Linked DNA regions of Homo sapiens. Changing the gene in region 3 together with the main gene of any one other region gives a genetic interaction. Each region holds a gene or a part of one and is shown on either strand. Other genes may lie near its edges.

Region 1 (4,266 bases), on a different chromosome or scaffold from region 3:
GGCGCCTGTAATTCCAGCTGCTACGGAGGCTGAGGCGGAGAATCACTTGAACCCGGGAGGCAGACGTTGCAGTGAGCCGAGATCGCGCCGTTGCACTCCAGTCTGAGCGACAAAGCAAGACTCCGTCTCAAAAAAAAGAAGAAAGAAAGTATCCGACTTGGTCTTGGGCTCTTCTCACTATAATCCAACTATATTCTCTTACGAAATGGCAGAATTAATCTTCCCTCCTTGTGACACCCCTGTAGTTATACATGCCTCTGGCACTTACAATCATTTTTTCTAATTGTGTTTAACGGTTCTAGCACATTACTTTGTAACTTTAGAATAGAGATTGTGTCTGATTCCTGTGTATTAAGGTCCGACCTTTTTTATTTTTATTTATTTATTTTTTAGACAGAGTCTCGCTCTGTCGCCCAGGCTGGAGTGCAGCGGTCCGATCTCGGCTCACTGCAACCTCCGCCTCCCGGGTTCAAGCGATTCTCCTGCCTCAGCCTCCCGAGTGGCTGGGATTACAGGCATGCATCACCACTCCCGGCTAATTTTTTTGTATTTTTAGTAAAGACTGGGTTTCACCATGTTGGCCAGGCTGGTCTCGAACTCCTGACCATGTGATCCGCCTGCCTCGGCCTCTCAAAGTGCTGGGATTACAGGCGTGAGCCACCGCACCCAGCCGATCTGACCTTTTTTTTTTTTTTTTTTTTTTTTTGAGACGGAATCTCGCTCTATTGCCCAGGCTGGAGTGCAGTGGCGCGATCTCGGCTCACTGCAAGCTCCGCCTCCTGGGTTCACGCCATTCTCCTGCCTCAGCCTCCCAAGTAGCTGGGACTACAGGCGCCCGCCACCGCGCCTGGCTAATTTTTTTGTATTTTTAGTAGAGACGGAGTTTCACTGGGTTAGCCAGAATGGTTTCGATCTCCTGACCTCGTGATCCACCCGTCTCGGCCTCCCAAAGTGCTAGGATTACAGCGTGAGCCAGCGCGCCCAGCCCGATCTGACCTTTTTTAAATGAAGACGTATTCAGGAAGGAAATATCTACAAGTAAGACAAAATTAAGTAAGAACCCAATGTACGAACATTCACTTCTCTAACAAAGGAAAGACACAAAACAAGAAACTAATAAGGCGGAGAAAGGAATTGAGATTGGGGGAAACAGCATCTCCTTCCTCCCTGCACACTCGGCAGGTTCCCTGGAAAGTTCTAGAAGGGATTCAGAAGTGGCTGGTGACATCACTGTGGCTCCGTGGCGCCCACTACAGCAGCCAAACGACACGCTAGCTTTCCCGCCTCATAGAGGCTCGTGAATGGGGGTGGGGCCCTGCGAGGGGCGGGGTCACGTCACTTCCTGTGCGGGACGCGCTGCAGCTGGAGAGGAAAGGCAGAGCGAGGAGGGGCGAGGCCAAGAAAGCGCGCGTTTCTGGGAGGGGAGGAGCCTGGCTAAGGAGCGCCGCGTCACATCCGGTAGAGTTAGAGCCCGTGCGGAGGCGGTGCGGAGCATTTCGGCTCTGAGCGGCTGGGCGACCGGCGCGTCGTGCGGGGCTGCGGCGGAGCCTCCTTAAGGAAGGTGCAAGAGGTTGGCAGCTTCGATTGAAGCACATCGACCGGCGACAGCAGCCAGGAGTCATGAGCGACAGCGGCGAGCAGAACTACGGCGAGCGGGTACGTAGAGCTGCGGTAGGGGGTGGCTGTGTGGTCCTAGCTCCTTGCATCTTTTTCTAGGCCCGTCGGCCTCGGGCCAGGAGGCAGGGGCGTTTTAGGCTCCGAAGTCTGAAGCCGGGAGGGCAGGCAAGGGAGACAGCATTTAACCAAAAAAAGCCTTTGTGGATAGTGCCTTAGTGCCTTTGGTCGTGAAGGAGGGAGGCCCCCGGCGGGTTTATGTGGCTTCTGCCCGAGACGGCCGTTTTTCCCGTTATAAGAGGGGGAAGATGAAAATGGCCGCTGCGTCCCCGCGGTGTTGGGGGAGGGGAGCGATATCTTATTTCGGCGTTGCTCTCCTGCGAAGGTCCGCCGCAGCCATCTTGGGCTGGCGGGCTGGGCGAGCTGCCAGAGGCACAAAATGGCGGAGAAGCCGCGCGGCAACGCGGACCCGACCCGCAGCGGGCCGCGCTTCGTAAGGCCGCGTGGTGGGGTGCAAGGGGACAGACGACGTTCTTTTGGGTCTTTGGGCCGGTGTTTAGGTTAACGAAGGACCGTCTTTGCCTCCACGGAAAGGACGGAGTCTGGGATGTCTTTGGGGCCTCTTAAGATGGAAACTAATCCAAGGCCGACTAAGTTCTGGGCCCGTTAGGTGGAGGGGATTGCGTGAGGGCTTTGTGTTTGGCCTAAATGAAGCGCTTTTCTCTGATGCCGAAAGGGCTTCCCAGGCAAAAATCTGTATCAGTATTCTATTAGGACAGACCACAAAGTCGTTAAGATGATTTTGTGGACATCGCATTTCCACGGGATTGTGAAGGAGAAATTGGCGGGCAACCATTTACGGCGCCGTTATTTCCTTTGTTTTGAGGCGTTCTAATACTTAGAACCACAGCGTGTGTTGGCTACAGTTTTCTTTCCCTTAAGTTTCCACCTCTTAAAGGTGTTCAGTGAGGGTTGATTGAATTGCGGGAACAAGACAGTTCTAGGGTTTAAACAGCATACGTAGCTGGTCTGTGGGGCTCTGGGTATTGGATTCGGAAAGCATTGAATGATGCGAACATACGAGGCTTGCTAGAATTAAGAGGAATCTGTTAGAAGGGTGATAGAAAAGCACCATAGAAATTGATTTTTGAGGCTGTGGGAATAATTTGTGCTTTTTTAAAAAAAAAAAACAATTTGTTACCTAAGTTTCCCCTTGTTGGTAAAGCTACCTTAAGATCTGAATATGATTTATCAGGTAAATAAGACTATTAAATGTCTTAGCAAACTTTTGATTAAGATTTTATATGATTCCTCAGAGTATTTTAGGAAGAAATTTTCAGTGATGAAGCGTGAGTTTCCTGCGTAATTTTGGAGCCCAAACTGCTTAATTTGGTTTGAACTAATCAAGCCTTGCGTTTACATACTCGGATGAGCATAGAGTTTTTAGTTTTTGATGTTTTTCCCGAAGCCGATTGACTCCAATGTCACGAGTGTTTTAGATTTTTTTTTAAGTTCTTGCTTTCTTGGGTAAGAAAGTTGGGATTGAGCTCAAAAGTTGTTAAAAAGTCGTGACTTCTGATCATTGGCAGTTGAATCTGTTATAACAGTCATTGGTGTTTGGACTGCAAAGTAAGCGATTTTAAAGTCTTTTGTTATTAAACAGAAAAATTCAATTATTGGGTACCTTTCTACTCTTCAAAAATACTAAATGACTGGCTTCTGACTAGAGCTCTCGATTGAATACACGTGAAGAATGCTTGAGAATGGAAAATTGCCCAGAGTTCATTAGTATATTTTACGTGAGAAGGGAAACAATTGAAACTAGGTTCCAGTTTGAGACTCGGCTCAAGAGAAATTTGAAATTTTCTGATGGGTTATCTTTTTACTAGTAAAAGTACACTGTGTTTTTCGCAATCTTTGAATTGTAGAGGGAGGTTAACTTAATGTGTTAAAAATTGAGTTTTTTTTCTTACATAAGAGTCTTCGCTTTCTGGCCGAGATCTCTAAACTTTTACGTTGTGAAATACTTCCATATTGTTGTGTTTGGTGTTTGCGTGTTTGTGTTCCAATTGGAACCTTTAAGGGTTGGAATACACCTGAATCAAACACGTGTCTAGGCTTCCAAAGCAAGCTTGGGAAAACCATAAAGCTCAATGGAACAGCTTGATCTTAGACATGCCTGTGGTGTAAATGATGCTTCTCTGGAGCCAGAAAAATGAGTGTTATTCAACTCCAGGCTTCTGAACTGGGTCTTAATGTAAATCACTAATCTCTTCAAATCAGTGGAATTCTCCCTTATTTATCTGTCTCTAATCCAGACAACCCCACCCCTCTGTGCCCCACCTTTTCCAGTGACTGTAGGAGTTTGTTGTTGTGTCCCTCCCCTTTAAGGTTGGGTGTGTGGGATAAATTATTCTCAGTTTGATCACTCAATAGAATACATTTGGGTGAATATAATGACATTTAAAGAACTGGTGTGTCCCTCATCCCTCGTTGGTCTGTGGGATTTATTTTTTCCCCCCTCTCAAAGGTAATAGATTAACACTAAAATCTGTCTATAGGGGTCTAATTAGCAGGCTTAACCTGATCTGGCCAAACCACTTTCAAAAGTAAGATCTCGTTTTCATCTCCGGATTCAAGACTCTTCCCCCA
Region 2 (3,500 bases), on a different chromosome or scaffold from region 3:
ACTGCACTCCAACCTGGGGGACAGAGCGAGACTGTGTCTCAGAAAAAGACAAAAAAAAAAAAAAGATAATGTGGCCAGGTGCAGTGACACACACCTGTAATCCCGGCTCTTTAGGAGGCCAAGGCAGGAGGATTGCTTGAGCCCAGCAGTTTGAGAGCAGTGTGGGCAACATAGTGAAACCCCATCACTACAAAAAATTTAAAAATTAGCAAGGCATGGTGGCACATGCCTGTGGTCCCAGCTACTTGGGAGGCTGAGGTGAGAGGATCACTTGAGCCTAGGAGGTCGAGGCTGCAGTGAGCTGTGATCACACCACTGCACACTAGCCTTGGGGACAGTAAGACCCTGTCACACACACAAAAAAGATAATCTGGCAAAATTAATATGAGCAGCATTTTTCACTCGAAGGGAAACCTAAATAAGCAATAAGCAAGTTATGTTTTAATCATAAGACTTACTTGGAAAATTAAGTATAAGACCATAGTAAGCTACAGATGCTTCTCAGATACTTCCCGATAAACTCATCATAAATAAAAAATACCATTAAGTAAAAAATGATGCTTTTTTTGTTGTTGTTTTTTTGAGATGGAGTTTCGCTCTTGTTGCCCAGGCTGGAGTGCAGTGCAACTGCAATCTCTGCCTCCTGGGTTCAAGCGATTCTCCTGCTCAGCCTCTCGAGTGGCTGGGATTACAGGCGTCTGCCACCACGCCCAGCTAATATTTGTATTTTAGTAGATACAGGGTTTCACCTTGTTGGCCAGGCTGGTCTCAAACTCCTGACTTCGGTTGATCCACCCGCCTCGGCCTCCCAAAGTGTTGGGATTACACATGTGAGCCACCACGCCCAGCCAAAAATGCATTTTAATATAACCTCAATAAACCTGTTGTAAAGGTGAAAAATCATTGGTGGACCATTTTAAATTAGCGGCTGTCTACTATTTTGCACTCACTAGTTGGCAAAGCGTTAATTTTAGGAAGTGTTAACATGCCATTGTTGGGAGTGACTATCAGAGCTTTGAAATTATAGTTGGGTGGGGGGTTGTACAAAGGATTTCTGTAAGATAACTTTCATTAATCATATACTTGAGGAAATACTGGAAACTTTTATATCCATGAGTTATTAAACAGTTTTTAGGATAACTTTATTAATAAAAGAGAATCTCAGCTTAATACTTTCAAATTGTTTGTTAACACTCTGTTCAGCAGTAAAGAGCCATTCTACCATGAAAAAAAGTTAATCTTGTTCATTGCTGAATTTCTATCCCCTAGATGGGGACTCTGCACCTGAGGTATATAATAATGTTTGTTGAACAGGTAGCTGCAGGTGTAAACACAAACATTATTCTGGTGTTAGAATGTTATCCAGGTTGTAAGTGAAAACCACTCACCTGTTTCTTGAGCAGAGGTTTTAACATTGAAATGTGCAGAGCCTCGCTGATAGGAATGGATGTAGGTCTGCTAAAATTTAACCTTGCTTACATTGCTGTTGAAATTGGGATGCAAGCTGTCCAAGCACATTGTGTTAAACTTTTAAGTTTATAGTCATTTATCCGTTATTCACTTTTTTTTTTTTTTTTTTGAGACGGAGTCTTGCTCTGTTGCCCAGGCCGGAGTGCAGTTGTGCAGTCTCGGCTCACTGCAACCTCCATCTCCTGGGTTCAAGCGATTCTCCTGCCTCAGCTTCCCGAGTAGCTGGGATTACAGGCGTGCGCTACCACGCCTGGCTAATTTTTATATTTTTGGTAGAGACGAGGTTTCACCATGTTGGTCAGGCTGGTCTCGAACTCCTGACTTTGTGATCTGCCTGCCTCAGCCTCCCAAAATGTTGGGATTAAAGGTGTGAGCCACTGCGCCCAGCCAGTTGTTCAGTCTTTATCTCTGCTAAATATTTGGAATATTCTAAATTACATGTTTGTTTAGAATGCTTTGTTATACAGAAGTATTTACTATTCTTAAATTATAGCCAGTTGTTTGGGGAAGAAGATGCTGATCAAGAAGTATCTCCTGACAGAGCTGACCCTGAAGCTGCCTGTGAGTAAATTATTTGGCATATGTTTTATCAGATACTATTATCTTTATTTTGTTGATTTAATTTTGGTAGCTTAAGGGAAAAAAATTGCTATATGTGCTAGGTAATGTGTGTTTAACATGTGTTTTTTTTTTGTTTTTTTTTTTTTTTTTTTTTTTTGTCTCAGAGGTGGAGTTTCTCTCTTATTGCCCAGGCTGGAGTACAATGGTATAATCTCGGCTCACTGCAACCTCCGCCTTCTGGGTTCAAATGATTCTCCTGCCTCAGGCTCCTGAGTAGCTGGGATTACAGGCACCTGCCACCGCGCCCAGCTAATTTTTGTATATTTAGTAGAGACAGGGTTTCACCATGTTAGCCAGGCTGGTCTCGAACTCTTGACCTGAGGTGATCCACCCGCCTTGGCCTCCCAAAGTGCTGGGACAGGCGTAAGCAACCGTGCCTATCCAAAACAATGTTTTACAAAAAAAATATGATTCCGTTTTACTGATGAGGAAATCAAGGTTAAGAGAAATTTCACAAGTCTAGTAAATAGAGCTGCGAGTTGTTCCTAGATCTCATGACTGGTCTGTGCTTTGAACTGTTATATGTGTAGCTTTCAGAAACTAAGTTACAACAGGCCAGGCAAGGTGGCTCACGCCCGTAGTCCCAGCATTTTGGGAGGCTGAAGCAGCTGGATTGCATGAGGTCAGGAGTTTGAGACCAGCCTGGCCAACATGGCAAAACCCTGTCTCTACAAAAAATATAAAAATTAGCCAGGCATGGTGGTGCATACCTGTAGTCCCAACTACTTGTGAGGTTGAGACGGGAAGATGGCTTGAGCCCAAGAGGTAGAAGCTACAGTGAGCCGAGATCTTAACACTGCACTCCAGCCTGGGCAACAGAGTGAGACTTTGTCTCCAAAAACAAGAAAGAAAGAAACTGGGATACAAAAAGATGCTGATGAATGTGTTATTTTCTTATTCCTTGAACTCAGAATGTGTTGCATTTGGGGATTTCCATGAGTGACTTTCTTTTTATTCCCAAAGGTGAGTGAAAAGAGTTCAGTTCTACATTTATTACGGTTGAAAATAAAATAATGATCGTTTTATAGGGGAACCAACGGAAGCCGAAGCCAGAGCTAGAGCATCTAATGAAGATGGTGACATTAAACGTATTTCTACTAAGGAATGGGCTAAATCAACTGGATATGATCCAGTTAAACTTTTTACCAAGGTTAGATTTACTTTTTTTATAATCATGGATAGATGTATTGTTGTGCATAGATGTATTGTTCTAGTTCTGCTTGTTTTAAAATAGTCCATAAAATTGAATTAAGCTTCTATGTATATGCCTTGTGATGTCCTAATAAAATGATTGATGCAGTCAGGATATGCAAGTTTTAAAATGTTACCATCTACACTAAATCTATCAGTATAACATCTAAATAGGAGGTAAAATGAGAGGTGGCTTGTATACCTTCTTGGTTGTCTTT
Region 3 (3,500 bases):
TTCCGCTGTGGGCCTCTTCAAGTAGAGACAACTTTCCCCCCGAGTTCATATATAGGTATGCGGTGAGTGTCTTTCTTGGTCCGCATTTCTCTGCCTTCCATTGTTACAGCTCCAGCTCCTTTAAAGCCCTTGTGATCTTATTATATCATCTGATACCTCCTTTGTTGCTATTCGACCCCCTCCCCCCACACCTGTATTCGTTGATGATTTGAACACCTAGCTAATGGTCTTGTGTACTGGCGCTATTGTTGTTATTGTTCTTGGCCTCTGCAAGATCCAAGTTGATAATTTATCCCCTATCCTGGACTTATGATTCTTTTGTTTGCTTGTTTTCCATGATCATTTTTCTATCTGTATATAGCCAGACACTATCTTTTTAATTTTTATTATTTGGACTACTGCCCACACCTCTTAAGTATCCCTCCTGCTTCCATTCTTACTCTCATATAGTCTTTTCACTACATAACAGCCAGAGTTCTCTTTGTGTATTGAATCACATCAGTCTTCTGGTCAGAACCCTCTAGTGGGTTTTTATCATATGTAGACTTAAATCCAAACTCATGTTGTGGCCTCTGAAGCCATATGTGCTCATCATTTCTATTTTATCTTCTGCTCCATTCCGGCTCATTCACTTGCTCTGGTCACATGGATCTTATTCTCTCTTTTAGCACACCACATTTATTCCTTCTCAGGATCTTCATTTCACTAGAATCCAACTTACTTTGTCTTACTTGAAATGCCATCTCCTCAAAAAGGCTTCCCTGGCCACCCAAATTGAAGTACCTCTCCCCTAATCACACTTGATTTCATTTCTCTATTTCATTTCCAGTGTTTTGGCATCAGATGTTATCTTTTTAATGTCTGTATTCATTGTCCGTCTCCTCCTATTAAAAATAAGCTCTTCGAGGACAGGGTTTTTGACTTCTTTGTTCACTACTGGTTCCCCAGGGCTGTACACATAGTAAGTGTTAAATAAATATTTGTTGATTGAATGAATAAGAAGTAATCAAGGAATGTGCCAAAAGAAATAGAAATTGAGGTGGGTCTTGAATGATGACTTGGCTTTGGCTACATGGCATGTGCATGAGAAGGGTGCACCAGGCAGGGCTAGCAGAGTGAGAAAAATGAGAAGCTACAGAGCATGACTGCGTGGTCATGGGATATTGAATAATCCAGTGGACTGGAGCCGAGGACTCATTTTGGTGTAGTAATAATATACTGGGCTTTCCCAGGCTCCCTGTCACAGTGCTTCTGTGGTGCTCAAGTTTTGCCCTTGTTGGAGCCCTCATTTTATCATTTATTTCATGTGTTTAACTTACATAGTAGTGAATATAATAATTGTGGTGTCTTTTTCCTTAACTGAATTAAAGGGGACAATTAGGTCCTAGCTTATTTTCCAGAACACTTAATAAATAATTGTTCTGTTATGTATAATTGAAAAGTAGTTATTGGCCAGGCGCAGTGGGTCATGCCATCTGCAATCCTAGCACTTTGAGAGGCCAAGGTGGGAGGATCACCTGAGGTCAGGAGTTCGAGACCAGCGTGGCCAACATGGTGAAACTCTGTCTCTACTACAAATACCAAAATCAGCTGGGCATGTTGGCAGGCACCTGTAATCCCTGCTACTCAGGAGGCTGAAGCAGGAGAATCGCATGAACCTGGGAGGCAGAGGTTATAGTGAGCCGAGATGGCACTGCTGCACTCCAGCCTGGGCAACAGAGTGAGATTCCATCTCAAAAAAATAAAAAAAGAAGAAAAAAAAAGAAAGGTAGTTACCAGATATTGAGGAAACCTTGCATGTTCATACTAAGGATGTTGAATATTGATTGTATGGATTAGAACAATGTTTAGAAAAAAATCAGATATTAATATGAAGGAACAAAAATGGTCTCATGAAAAGGAGCTGAAAGGCTTTCTAGTTAGTTCTAGATATAGAACCAAGGGAGGATATAGGTCTGAATGAACTAGACTGGGGATGGAAAAAATCAGAAGTTGTTACTGTAAAAGAATGAAGAGAAACTAGATGGTCACTAGAGGGAGCAGCAAAGTCAAGCAAAGTGAGACCTGCTCTTTCTTATAGATGAAGTGAACTTGCTAAGGCATATGTGAGGGAGTAAGAATTTAAGTCTTGGGAGGATATTTAAGGAAGTCATAGAGAATGCAATTGAAACCGTAAGTGAAAAATTAAAGTAGGCAATGATATTTCATTTTTGGCACTAAGGCACTAACTACACTTTGTTCCTTTTAACTTGGTTTCTTTAACATATTTATTTGAATTTTCCTTATGAGAAGTTTCTCTTATTTTTGTATTCTGCTTTGTATTTGAGTTATCTTAAAAGTTCATCTGCTATTCAGCAATTGTACTTTTATCTCAGGGAAATGAAATCTTATGTTCACATAAAAACCTCTTCAAGAATGCTTATAATACCTTCATTTGAAATAGCCCAAACTGGAAACAACCCAAGTGTTCTTCAATGAGTGAATAAATAAATTATGATACATTCATACCATGGAAAACTATTAGTAATAAAGAAATGAGCTTATATACAACTTAGATGAATCTTGAGGGAATTCTGCTGAGTAAAAAATGACAATCTCAAAACAATACATATTATATGATTCTATTATACTCTTGAAATGACAAAATTATAGAGATGGAGAACCAGATCAGTGGTTGCCAAAGATTAGGGAGCTGAGGGAGGGGAGCAGGGTGCAAAAGATAGATGGGGGTGGTTATAAAATCATGAGAGATCCTTGTGGTGACAGAACTGTTCTGCATGTTGACTGTGGTGGTGGATGTATGAACCTACATGTGACAAAACTGTATAAAATTTAATACGGAAGTAAGTGCATGAGTACAACTGAGGAAACCTGAATAAGACTAGTGGATTGTATCAATGTCAGTATCCTGTTTGTGATAATCTACTGTAGTTGTATATGATTTTATCTTTGGGGGAATTTGGATATATGCTATCTCTTTGTATTATTTCTTGTAACTGTATGGGAGTCTGTAGTTAACTTCAAAGAAAAAGTTTAATTAAATTAAAAAAACAGGTAAAATAAATTTTAATAGTATGTTATTTAATCCAAAGTATCTAAAATATTATATTAACTTGTAACCAGTAAAAAATGTTAATAAGAAACATCTTATACAGATAAGAGTCATCTGTAACCACAGTAATAAAGTGGCACTTTCTTATGGTGTTTTTTTTTTATTCCAATTAAATTGAATTAGGAACCATAACAAATATTACAGGGGACCTGATAAGTCTTCCACTTAACTTAAAACTCTACTATTTTTTTCTTGTAGCTTTCTACCAAATCCTTCCCACCTTGCATGCGTCAGTTACATAAAGCCTTGCGGGAAAATCACCATCTTCGTCATGGAGGCCGAATGCAGTATGGCCTATTTCTGAAGGGCATTGGTTTAACTTTGGAACAGGCATTGCAGTTCTGGAAGCAAGAATTTATCAAAGGAAAGATGGATCCAGACAAGGTAA
Region 4 (3,099 bases), on a different chromosome or scaffold from region 3:
TATGTGTCTGTGGCCTCTTCTGTGGTATCTTTTATACTGTTGTATAAGAAAGTTTTTATGTCTGTTCCCTTGATGTGACAGTCCTTCACATATCTTAAAACAACTTTCACATCTTGCCTTAATCTGTGTTTACATTGTATTCATGTTTGGAAAAGTCAGGCTTAAATTATAAAGGTAGAAAAATTTCATGGTTTTAGTTTCATTAGAGAAAACTATTTGGTTTATTGTCTTTAAACAACAGAATTCACTTTTATAAATAGGTTCTGAGATGCAGTAAAATCGCTGGTGTGAAAGTAGCAGAAATTACAGAGCTAATATTGAAAGCTTTGGAGAATGACCAAAAAGTAAGGTAAGTAACTTTTCCAGAACTAAGTGGTCTTTTATTTTCATTTTTTAAATTTTTATTATTTTTTTTAGTATAAGCAAGCTTTATTATGCATGAACTTGATTTCACATACAAAGTTAGAATGGCAATTTCAATTAAAATTGACTCATTAAAAAGTGTAAATACCATGGTATAGTTATGTTACCCAAAACTCCGAAAGGTAGTGAAACTGGTAACAGATATTGCTACTCATCTTTGGACGGATACAATAAAAGTATTAATGAAACTGGTTCCCAGACAAGTATGTGTCACTTGCTCCTGTGCCTTAGGGAGGAGAGGATGTTATAACACAAGCATTATTGATGCAGTGACTTGTGGATAGTTGCTCCTTATTAACACTGCTAAAATTAGGTTCACGTTTTTTACTTTGTGTGGGAGCTGGTGATTCTTGTCCTTTTGTTTTATGAGGGATATCTTTCAAAGTGCTGGCATCAAACCCACTTATTGCAAAATGCATCACAGATGGGAATTTAAGTCTGGGTCAAGTCCAGAATTCTAAAACAATAAAGAGGAAAGACCCTCCTAAGAGCAAGAGGTCTTCATTAATCCAGACTCCAAGATACAACACAGGGAACAGGAAATGGCCCTAAATGGTCTTTTAATATATTTTTTTTCTTAAGGATCTTCCTTGAACGAGGGCAACCATATAAATTTCACACTTGATCTTTCCTTATTTGTTAATCTGAATTGAGTATACTATTTAATGTGTTTTTAGAAAATTGGACTTGTTATATTTTCTGCAATTTAAATGTAACCTATATTGAAAAATCATATAAGATTTTTGTTTGTTTTTTGAGATGAAGTCTCACTTCTCACTCTGTCACCTAGGCTATAGTGCATTTGTGCAATCTCAGCTCACTGCAGCCTCCGCCTCATGGCTTCAAGTGATTCTCCTGCCTCAGCCTCCCAAATAGCTGAGATTACAGATGCATACCACCATGCCCGGCTAATTTTTATATTTTTAGTAGGGATGGGGTTTCGCCGTTTTGGCCAGGCCGGTCTCAAACTCCTGACCTCAGGTGATCCACCCGCCTGGGCCTCCCAAAATATTAGGATTACAGGTGTGAGCCACCGTGCCTGGAGACATAAGATTTTTCTTTAGCAGTTAACATTTTCTTAGGATAAAAATAATCTAGTAACTCAAATTAATGGAAGGAAACAGGTTGATTTCCATCTCTACCTCTTACTGTGCTATCTTAAGCAAGATACATAACCCAGCATTTCAGTGTCCTCTTCTATAATATGGGATATTAACACTACCTGGTAGGGCTGATTTGAGGGTTAGAGAATAGTATATTTTAAGCACCTAGCACATGGTCTGGCACGTGGTTTAATAAATGATTATGCTAACTATTTACTCTTGTTAGGCATAATAAATTGGTGAGGTTAAGTTAGATAAACTAACTCTCTTCCAATATTTTTCATCCACCAAAGGATAAAATAATAGTTTTTTTCCCTTCCTGTCTTCTATCCAATCTGTTACCTTCCTCCCCCTTCCTTCCCACCAAAAAAACCCCCACATACAGGAAAGAAGGTGGAAAGTTTGGTTTTGCAGAGTCTATAGCAAATCAAAGGATCACAGCATTTAAAATGGAAAAGGCCCCTATTGATACCTCGGATGTAGAAGAAAAAGCAGAAGAAATCATTGCTGAAGCAGAACCTCCTTCAGAAGTGTATCTTTATTTGGTGGTTTTTGCAGTAACAAGATTCATAACACTTGGCATTATAATATTAGGCTATATGAAGGATGTGTATACTGAAATTAGTTTTTGTAAACACTGTACTTTGTTAGAGAAAACACTTAAAATACAAGATAGAGATGTGAGTCATATTCTGTTGATGGTATAACATTCAGCTTCTATTCAGTTATCCTGGAAAAAACAGATTTTAAGGACCAATTTAATTTAGTACTATAACTAAAATGTTGAGAGAATCTGTCTCTTCACATTTCTTATTAATTGCATCCATAAAATCTTGCCTGAGTTTTTTTTCTTCTTCATTGTTCAGCCATCCATAGTGTAGCTATATTAAGTTTTTTTTCCCCTAGGAACTTGGGGCACACTTGAATCAATCTTACAAGAAGAAAACTTTCATTCTCATCTTCAACAGTTCATCAAATAGCAATATTTTTGTTACTCAGTTTTCTTAACTTGTTAAGTGTTTCTACACCTGTGCTATGGACTCCTGGAACTGCCCAAATTGGAGAGGGAGTAGAAAACTCCTGGGGTGATCTTGAAGACTCTGAGAAGGAAGATGATGAAGGCGGTGGTGATCAAGCTATCATTCTTGATGGTATAAAAATGGACACTGGAGTAGAAGTCTCTGATATTGGAAGCCAAGGTAGGTGACACTTTATGGCACACTTACTATATATTACATACATATAGTATTACCGTATAGTTATATATATAATGCATAAAATGTGTGTATATTTATATTATCACTGTATATAGTAATATATAGCATATTAGCTATATAGAGATGTATAGTGGATAAATAACATACAGGATACTATATAGAGAGAATATAGATATGTAGTTATATATAGGGATGTAAGTATTGCATTTTTAGAGGGGCTAAATATTGTGATTTAAATTTCAACTAAATTATTGTGGCTAGCTGCAATACTAATGCTACTTTCTAAAAGAATATGCATATCTTTGTAGAGTAGTGGAACACTGGCATAAATGATAGTGATATTTTTAATTAAAAAA

What was found.
Region 1: changes in PRIM2 (region 3) and TRA2B together harm fitness more than expected from each alone (negative genetic interaction), as found in Homo sapiens cells (one large-scale study listed by BioGRID).
Region 2: changes in PRIM2 (region 3) and UBA2 together harm fitness more than expected from each alone (negative genetic interaction), as found in Homo sapiens cells (one large-scale study listed by BioGRID).
Region 4: changes in PRIM2 (region 3) and EXOSC9 together harm fitness more than expected from each alone (negative genetic interaction), as found in Homo sapiens cells (one large-scale study listed by BioGRID).

What each region holds. Positions count from the first base shown.
Region 1 is NC_000003.12:185,935,215-185,939,480, reverse strand, and holds the start of TRA2B (transformer-2 protein homolog beta), read left to right. Parts: upstream 1-1,466; 5' UTR 1,467-1,620; coding exon 1,621-1,656; intron 1,657-4,266. UniProt on the Homo sapiens protein: Sequence-specific RNA-binding protein which participates in the control of pre-mRNA splicing. Can either activate or suppress exon inclusion. Acts additively with RBMX to promote exon 7 inclusion of the survival motor neuron SMN2.
Region 2 is NC_000019.10:34,441,881-34,445,380, forward strand, and holds part of UBA2 (SUMO-activating enzyme subunit 2), read left to right. Parts: intron 1-1,963; coding exon 1,964-2,031; intron 2,032-3,119; coding exon 3,120-3,241; intron 3,242-3,500. UniProt on the Homo sapiens protein: The heterodimer acts as an E1 ligase for SUMO1, SUMO2, SUMO3, and probably SUMO4. It mediates ATP-dependent activation of SUMO proteins followed by formation of a thioester bond between a SUMO protein and a conserved active site cysteine residue on UBA2/SAE2.
Region 3 is NC_000006.12:57,534,130-57,537,629, forward strand, and holds part of PRIM2 (DNA primase large subunit), read left to right. Parts: intron 1-3,310; coding exon 3,311-3,496; intron 3,497-3,500. UniProt on the Homo sapiens protein: Regulatory subunit of the DNA primase complex and component of the DNA polymerase alpha complex (also known as the alpha DNA polymerase-primase complex) which play an essential role in the initiation of DNA synthesis.
Region 4 is NC_000004.12:121,811,323-121,814,421, forward strand, and holds part of EXOSC9 (exosome complex component RRP45), read left to right. Parts: intron 1-260; coding exon 261-349; intron 350-1,911; coding exon 1,912-2,058; intron 2,059-2,543; coding exon 2,544-2,725; intron 2,726-3,099. UniProt on the Homo sapiens protein: Non-catalytic component of the RNA exosome complex which has 3'->5' exoribonuclease activity and participates in a multitude of cellular RNA processing and degradation events.